Linked DNA regions of Homo sapiens. The protein of the gene in region 2 purifies or fractionates together with the protein of the main gene of each other region. This does not show direct contact. Each region holds a gene or a part of one and is shown on either strand. Other genes may lie near its edges.

Region 1 (3,759 bases), on a different chromosome or scaffold from region 2:
GTCTAGCTGTCACAAGATATCATAAGTCAATCTGAAATCATCTACATTGATGATGATTTTGTTAACTTTACAAACATCTTTACACTATCAACTATGTGTCAGAATAGTTAGCTAACTGTATGGAGCTCACACTCTAGCAATGACAGAAAGCCCTTAATGTTCTAAATGTTCCTCTAGAGAAAGACAGTAATAGCTAACCAAAAATGAGAAAAAATTCCACCAGAAAAGTTCAGAAAAAAACTGGAGAAAACAAGTTTTGACTAAATGCTTAAAGCAGTAATACCTTCTGCCAAAGCCAAACTCTAGTTTAAAAAAATTTCTGATAATAAATGTTAATCTAGTTATTACCTAAATTCTCTTCAGTGTATGACTGACTGACCATTATGCTATTAAGCTACATTACTTACTTTCACTGCAGGGCTCTCATGTGAAATGGAGCTGTGTATATTGAAATTTCTTTCTCCAAAAACAGAGCGCTGGACAGAAAGGCCTACAGATCCCTCCTACAATACCAACAAAAACAAGGAAAATAAGGATTATATCTGTAACACTTTCTGCCAGCTGTACTCTGCCATAGTTTTGAAAGAGTTAAGTGAGATGAAACAAAAACAGCTGCATCCAAGTCATTCTCAGGCACCAAACCACTTCTGTGAAAGGAGAAAATAGTCTAGACAGAACTCAACACCCATACAATGTTATCATAGTCCACAAATATATATAACTAAAAAAAAATTCAAAAACCACCTGCATGGATGTTACATTTTGCTGTGCAGCTAAAATGGAGATAGACACTTCAGAATTCCTCCCCTATAACTAATGCTTTCTTTTAAAAAGGATAATTAATCTGAACTTTTTAACATGCAGGGAAAATTTAATATTTTCCATTTTTGTCATAAAATATGATTTCATAATAGTTAATGACAGATGTTATAAACTGACAAAGTAAATTTTAGTTTTAAAATAGTAACCAAAATGATTCAGTACAAATCTTAGTGAAAATTTAATCAAATGAATACATATAACAAATGCAAAAAAAAGTTTTTTAAATTATAAGTACTATCCTAGTATTCTATCTCCCTCTGTTGGTTGAAGGAGTATATTTCTAAAACAGTGTCGGTACTTAAGAAATAAAAGAGATAGAACCTTTCCGTCTTTTCCTTGTTTAATCTGAATTTGTGCATTTGTGTAGGGTCTTTTAACAGAAGCTTTTGTGGTGGACTGCTGATCCAGCTCCTTAGGTACTGGGCCACTCAGTGGAATCTTGTTTCCTGTGATTATGTGGGATTTGTTTTGTGAACACCTTTCCTGCTGAGCTTCAGACTGGACAAATTTAAGAAGCTCTATTTTCGTATCATGGGTTCCTTGGGCCAAACCAAAGTCTACCAAGGCATACCTAAGAGACAAAATTAAGCATTTTTACTTATCTGTAGCAATTAAAGCTTAGTAACATTGTAATACTCTCAAACCATCCTCATAAAAACTGTAATTCTTTTTGGGATCAATTAGGAATTTATAACATTCTGGAAAAAAGAAAAAAAAATAAGTTTTCCAGACAAAGTAAGAATTTAACAGCTAACCAGGATTGAAAATTAAGAGTTGTCCCACAATCAAATTTTCTTTTTCCAGTGGTCTGTGTTAATAAGGCAGAAGAGGAATACATAACATAAACACAGTCCGTTGTTCTCTGATGGTGGCAGAGATGGCATCATAGCAGATAATTTCTAGTTAAGAAAGCTTAAAAAAATTAAAATCATGGTTTTAAAATCTGATCCAATTAAAGAAAATTAAAAAGTCAGGCATATAAAAGCTCAAAAAAGAAGTTATAATATTATTATGTTTAATATGATCCATTATATAGAGGTATTTATGTTATTTTTAGCTTATAATTTCTCTATAATTATAATCAGCATTAAAAAGTATACATAAAAATAAAACTTTTGTGTTAAAACAGGAAATTGGCTATCATGTGGTCCAATCCCCTCACTTACTAGAAAAGAAAAATGAAGTCCAGAGATAAGAGACATGTCTAAGGTCAAAAATTATTAGACTCTAAGTCTGTTAGTTCATGCTATTTCCACTGAACCATAGTACATCTAATAATGTACATTATTCCACTAATACAATTTTATCTTCTTCATCACCAAATTTCCCTTTCCAATCACAAAGAAACTGAAACAGAAATAATCTGTGCATGGCTATTGCAGTATGTTATATTATATCTAAGAGATATAAGTCAGAGGATACAAAGTAGCAGATATGTAGGATAAATAAATCTAGACCTAATGCACACTCTGAAGATTACAGGTAATAAAACTGTACTGTATATGAGATTCATACTAAATGAGTAAATTTTAGCTGCTCTTGCCGTAAAAACAAAAATAAGATGGGTAACTGAGATAAATATTTGCTTCACAATAGTAACTTTTGTACTATATATAACATCATGTTCAATACCTTAAATATAGACAATAAAATTGTTTTTTAAAAGAAATAGGATAAATATTTTCTAGTAACTCTTCATACTTACTTTTTCAGGCGCCTATTATATAAAAAATTGCTGGGCTTAACATCACGGTGAACAATACCAAACTGATGAATGCGTTTCAAAGCTTTGAACAGATTAAGCATATATTCCCGTACTTCTTGAAAGGAAAGAGAATTCAGAATGTCCTAAAACAAAGTTACAAATGAAATGAGTTACAAATATTGTTTGCAATTAAATATTTAGCTAATAAAAATTCAAGAAATATTAAAACCTACCAAAAACGACTCATGCTCCAGATATGGCATAGCAATAACTACATGATCATTCTTCCTAAAGCAGTATTTAACTCCCATGACATTATCTTGCCCCCTAGTGGAAAAATGCACAAGGAACTTTTAGAAGAAAGGTCAGAGGGACTGAAACTTTATGCCTAATTTTAAAAACCGCAATTTTAGCAATGCATACATATTGCTAGAAAACTGACTTAAATCATCATCACATAATATAAACACAAGTGACTTGTGTTCTCGTGTTAAAGTTTTCTTTTAAAACAAAAATGGCACCAGTTTTGAAGTTACTATAATAATTCAAACGAGGTAATTATAGTTGTGACTGGGGAAGCAGCAGAATGAGAAAAAAGGGAAAAGATTAATAAGACTTAGCAGATAAGATGGTAACAGTAATAAATAAATCAAGGTCACTAAACTAATAGATCAATGAGCCAGGATTTGAACCCAGGCATTTTGCTCCAGATATATGTTCTTAATCACTATGTTACACTGCTTCATAAAAGAGGAAAATAGGACAAAGGTGATTTCTATGATTTTGAGCCTGAGTAAGAAAACAATAGAGATACCAAAAAATGAGTAGAGAAGCCAGTAAAAGAAGCATCTAAAACCAGACCTCATCATTTTGATAGAGTTATCTAGACAAGGGACTAAGCCTTAAGTGAGAAGACAAGTGAGAAGTCAGTGAGAGTACCTGCAGAGAAGTGATACCTACAGACATGAAAATTAATAGCGAGAAAAGAAAACTGAGCTTGGAAGAAGCCAAGTTAGAGAGCCAAATAAGAAAGGAATTTTGAAGGAAGAGTTATTAGCATGGAAGTCAAAGAGAATAACAACTGAGGGAAGGCTTTTAGTTAGGCAAAGAATAATTAACTGGTAATTTTTAAGACAGCAATTTAAGTGGAAAGGAAGAAACAAAACAGAAGGAAGGAAAATATAACACAATGGAAGCTGAGCCTGAAGACAATTTGCCTGACTGCATTGTAA
Region 2 (3,759 bases):
TCACCCCAAAAAGGAAACCCTGTACCCATTATCAGTCACTCCCTATATGCTTGGGCAACTCCCTATATCCTTGATACTCCTAGCCCTTGGTAATGCCCATCTACCTTCTGCCTCCATCCTGCCTTTGTTTTTTTGTGCTTCTTTTTTTTTTTTTTTTTTTTAAGAGGGGGCCACACTCAGTCACAGAGGCTAGAATGCAGGAGCGCGGTCATGGCTCACTACAGCTTCAACCTCCCCAGACTCAGGTGATCCTCCCGCCTCAGTCTCCCTGTAGCTGGGACTACAGGTGCTCGCCACCATGCCCTGCTCATTTTTGTATTTTTTGTGGAGGCAGAGTGTCGCCATGTTGCCCCAGACTGGTCACGACCTCCTGGATTCAAGTAATCCTCCCACCTCAGCCTCCCAAAGTACTGGGATTACAGGCCTGAGGCACTGCTACTGGCCCTTTTTCTTTCTTTTTTTTGAGACGGAGTCTTGCTCTTGTTGCCCAGGCTGGAGTGCAATGGTGCGATCTCAGCTCACTGCAACCTCCACCTCCCGGGTTCAAGCAATTCTCCTGCCTCAGCCTCCCAAGTAGCTGCAATTACAGGCATGCACCTCCATGCCTGGCTAATTTTGTATTTTTAGTGGAGACGGGGTTTCTCCATGTTGGTTAGGCTGGTCTCGAACTTCTGACCTCAGGTGAACCACCCACCTCAGCCTCCCAAAGTGCTGGGATTACAGGTGTGAGCCATCGCACCCGGCCCTTTTTTATTTATTTATTTATTTATTTATTTATTTATTTATTTATTTTTGCCTTACCCAGTTGCCTGCAAGAGGGAGCTGAGGGCAAGGCTGGGAGGGGCAGGGCAATGCTTATTTTTTTTCTAGCTATGATCATGAGTACTTTTTTTTTAATTTTAGAGACAGGGTCTCGCTGTGTTGGTCAGATTGGTCTTTTACTCTTGGCGTCAAGCAATCCCCCCACCTCAGCCTCCCAAAATGTTAGGATTACAGGCATGAGCCACAGCATCCAGCTGGCGTTAGTACATTTTTATTATCAATTTTTTACCCATAACCTTAAAGCGTTAGCACTTTTCTACCATTATTGCCCTTCATATGCATCATTTGCGGTGGGAATATAATATTCTTTTGAGTGGATTATTAATTTACTTAACTGTTGCTCTGTGGACATTTAGACTCTTAATAATTTTTAGCATTTAGAAATAACACAGGTGAACAACTTTGAGTAAAAAGCATTTGCTATATTTGATTCCATTAAAATATTTTTAGGGGCTAGGCACAGTGGCTCACACTTGTAATCCCAGCACTTTGGGAGGCCGAGGCGGGCGGATCACTTAAGGCCAAGAGTTCAAGGCCAGCCTGGCCAACATGGTGAAACACCATCTGTACTGAAAATACAACAATTAGCTGCGTGTGGTGGTATGCGCCTGTAATCCCAGCTACTCGGGAGGCTGAGGCAGGAGAATTGCTTGAAACCGGGAGGTGGAGGTTGCAGTGAGCCAAGATCGTGCCTCTGCACTCCAGCCTGGGCAACAAAGCAAGACTCCATCTCAAAAAAAAAAAAAAAAAAAAAAAACCATATATATATTTAGGCTAGGCTCAGTGGCTCGTGCCTGTAATCCCACTTTGGGAGGCTGAGGTGGGCAGATCACCTGAGGTCAGGAGTTCTACACCAGCCTGGCCAACATGATGAAACCTTGTCTCTACTAAAAATATAAAAAAATTAGCAGGGCATGGTAGCACGCACTTGTAGTCCCAGCTACTCGGGAGGCTGAGGCACAACAATCGCTTGGACCCGGGAGGCAGAGGTTCTAGTGAGCCAAAATTGTGCCATTGCACTCCAGCCCGGGCAACAGAGCAAGACTCTGTCTCAAAAAGAAAAAAAAAAGAAAACAGCATGATAGTGCTTGACCCAAAAGAGACTAATAACTGGGGAAACTGGATGAATAGGGCTTGGAATGGAGAGGCTCTTTGCTGTCAAACCCAGAAACTCAGGACTGCAGAAACTCAGTGGTGAGGATGGATAGAATGAGGATTATATAACCAAACTGGCCCATAATTACATTTTGAACTTTTAGTCCTTTCTGTCATTTAGCCTTTGCTATGTAAAACACCAACCCTACTTGGGCTTAAAGCAACAATTTATTTTCTATTTATTTATTTATTTTTAGACAAAGTTTTGCTCTTGATGCCCAGGCTGGAGTGCAATGGTGCGATCTTGGCTCACTGCAACCTCCAATTCCCAGGTGCAAGCGATTCTCCTTCCTCAGCCTCCAGAGTAGCTGGGTTTACAGGTGCCTGCCACCATGCCCGGGTAATTTTTTTTTTTTTTTTTTTTTTTTTGTACTTTTAGTGAAGACGAAGTTTCACCATGTTGGCCAGGCTGGTCTCAAACTCCTGACCTCAGGTGATCCACCTGCCTTGGCCTCCCAAAGTGCTAGGATTACAGGCATGAGCCACCACACCTGGCCAAAACAACAATTTATTATTTCTCATTATGCTGTGGGTTGGCTGGGTGGTTTATCTGGTGGTTTCAGCAGGGCTCACTCCTGAGGCTGGATTCAGCTGGACGGTCACCTGGGCTGGAAAGACCAAGATGGCCTCACTCACACATCTGGCACTCTGTGTCAGTTATCATAACTATATGCAATAAGCTAAACTAGCTGATTTAACATGGTGGTCTCAAGGCCACCTTCCCAGAAAGTGAGGCAGGAAGCTAAGGCCTCTGAGGCCTAGGCTCCAGAACTCACACATCATAATTTCCACATGTTCTATTGGTCCAATCGAGTCAGATTGAAGGGCATAAAAAAGTAGGTCCCACCTCCTAATGGCAGGAAGAGCAAAGTCATATTGCAAAGGAGTGGGTATACTGGGATGGGAGGAGGAATATATGGTCATTAACAATCTCCTATATTTATATAGGATAATCATTGATTGCCCTACTCCTACCCTCTAGCATTTGCTTTTGCTGTATTAAAAAAGGTAGATGCAGCCAGGCACGGTGGCTCACACCTGTAATCCCAGCACTTTGGGAGTCCAAGGCGGGCAGATCACAAGGTTAAGAGATCGAGACCATCCTGGCCAACATGGTGAAACCCCATCTCTACTAAAATTACAAAAATTAGCTGGGCGTGGTGGCATGCGCCTGTAGTCTCAGCTATTCGGGAGGCTGATGTAGGAGAATTGCTTGAACCTGGGAGGCGGAGGTTGCAGTGAGCTGAGATCGCATGACTGCACTCCAGCCTGGTGACAAAAAAAAGGTAGATGTGATCAGACACGGTGGCTCACACCTGTAATCCCAACACTTTGGGAGGCCAAGGTGGGCAGATCACTTGAGGTCAGGAGTTCCAGACCAGCCTGGCCAACATGGTGAAACCCCATCTCTTCTAAAAATACAAAAATTAGCCAGTGTGGTGGGACACACCTGTTGTCCCAGCTACTTGGGAGGCTGAGGCAGGAGAATTGCTTGAACCCGGGAGGTGGAGATTAGAGTGAGCCGAGATCATGCCACTGCACTACAGCCTGGGAGACAAAGTGAGACCTTGTCTCAAAAAAAGAAAAGAAAAGAAAAAAAAAGGTAAATGTAATCCTTCAATTCATAACTAATTTTTTTAATAGTGGTAAAGTGTATATAACATAAAATAAGCCATTTTAGCCTTTTTTTTTCTTTTTTTTTTAGAGACAGGATTTCACTCCCCAAGCTGGAGTGTAGTAGTGTAGTCATAGCTCACTGCATCACTGAACTACTGGGCTCAA

The links. The genes of interacting proteins can lie anywhere in the genome.
Region 1: the proteins of DBF4B (region 2) and CDC7 purify together in Homo sapiens (affinity purification with mass spectrometry; 5 studies listed by BioGRID and IntAct, with this or other methods). This does not show direct contact.

Annotation. Positions count from the first base shown.
Region 1 is NC_000001.11:91,510,692-91,514,450, reverse strand, and holds part of CDC7 (cell division cycle 7-related protein kinase), read right to left. Parts: intron 2,855-3,759; coding exon 2,761-2,854; intron 2,671-2,760; coding exon 2,528-2,670; intron 1,394-2,527; coding exon 1,144-1,393; intron 504-1,143; coding exon 408-503; intron 1-407. UniProt on the Homo sapiens protein: Kinase involved in initiation of DNA replication. Phosphorylates critical substrates that regulate the G1/S phase transition and initiation of DNA replication, such as MCM proteins and CLASPIN.
Region 2 is NC_000017.11:44,725,544-44,729,302, forward strand, and holds part of DBF4B (protein DBF4 homolog B), read left to right. Parts: intron 1-3,759. UniProt on the Homo sapiens protein: Regulatory subunit for CDC7 which activates its kinase activity thereby playing a central role in DNA replication and cell proliferation. Required for progression of S and M phases.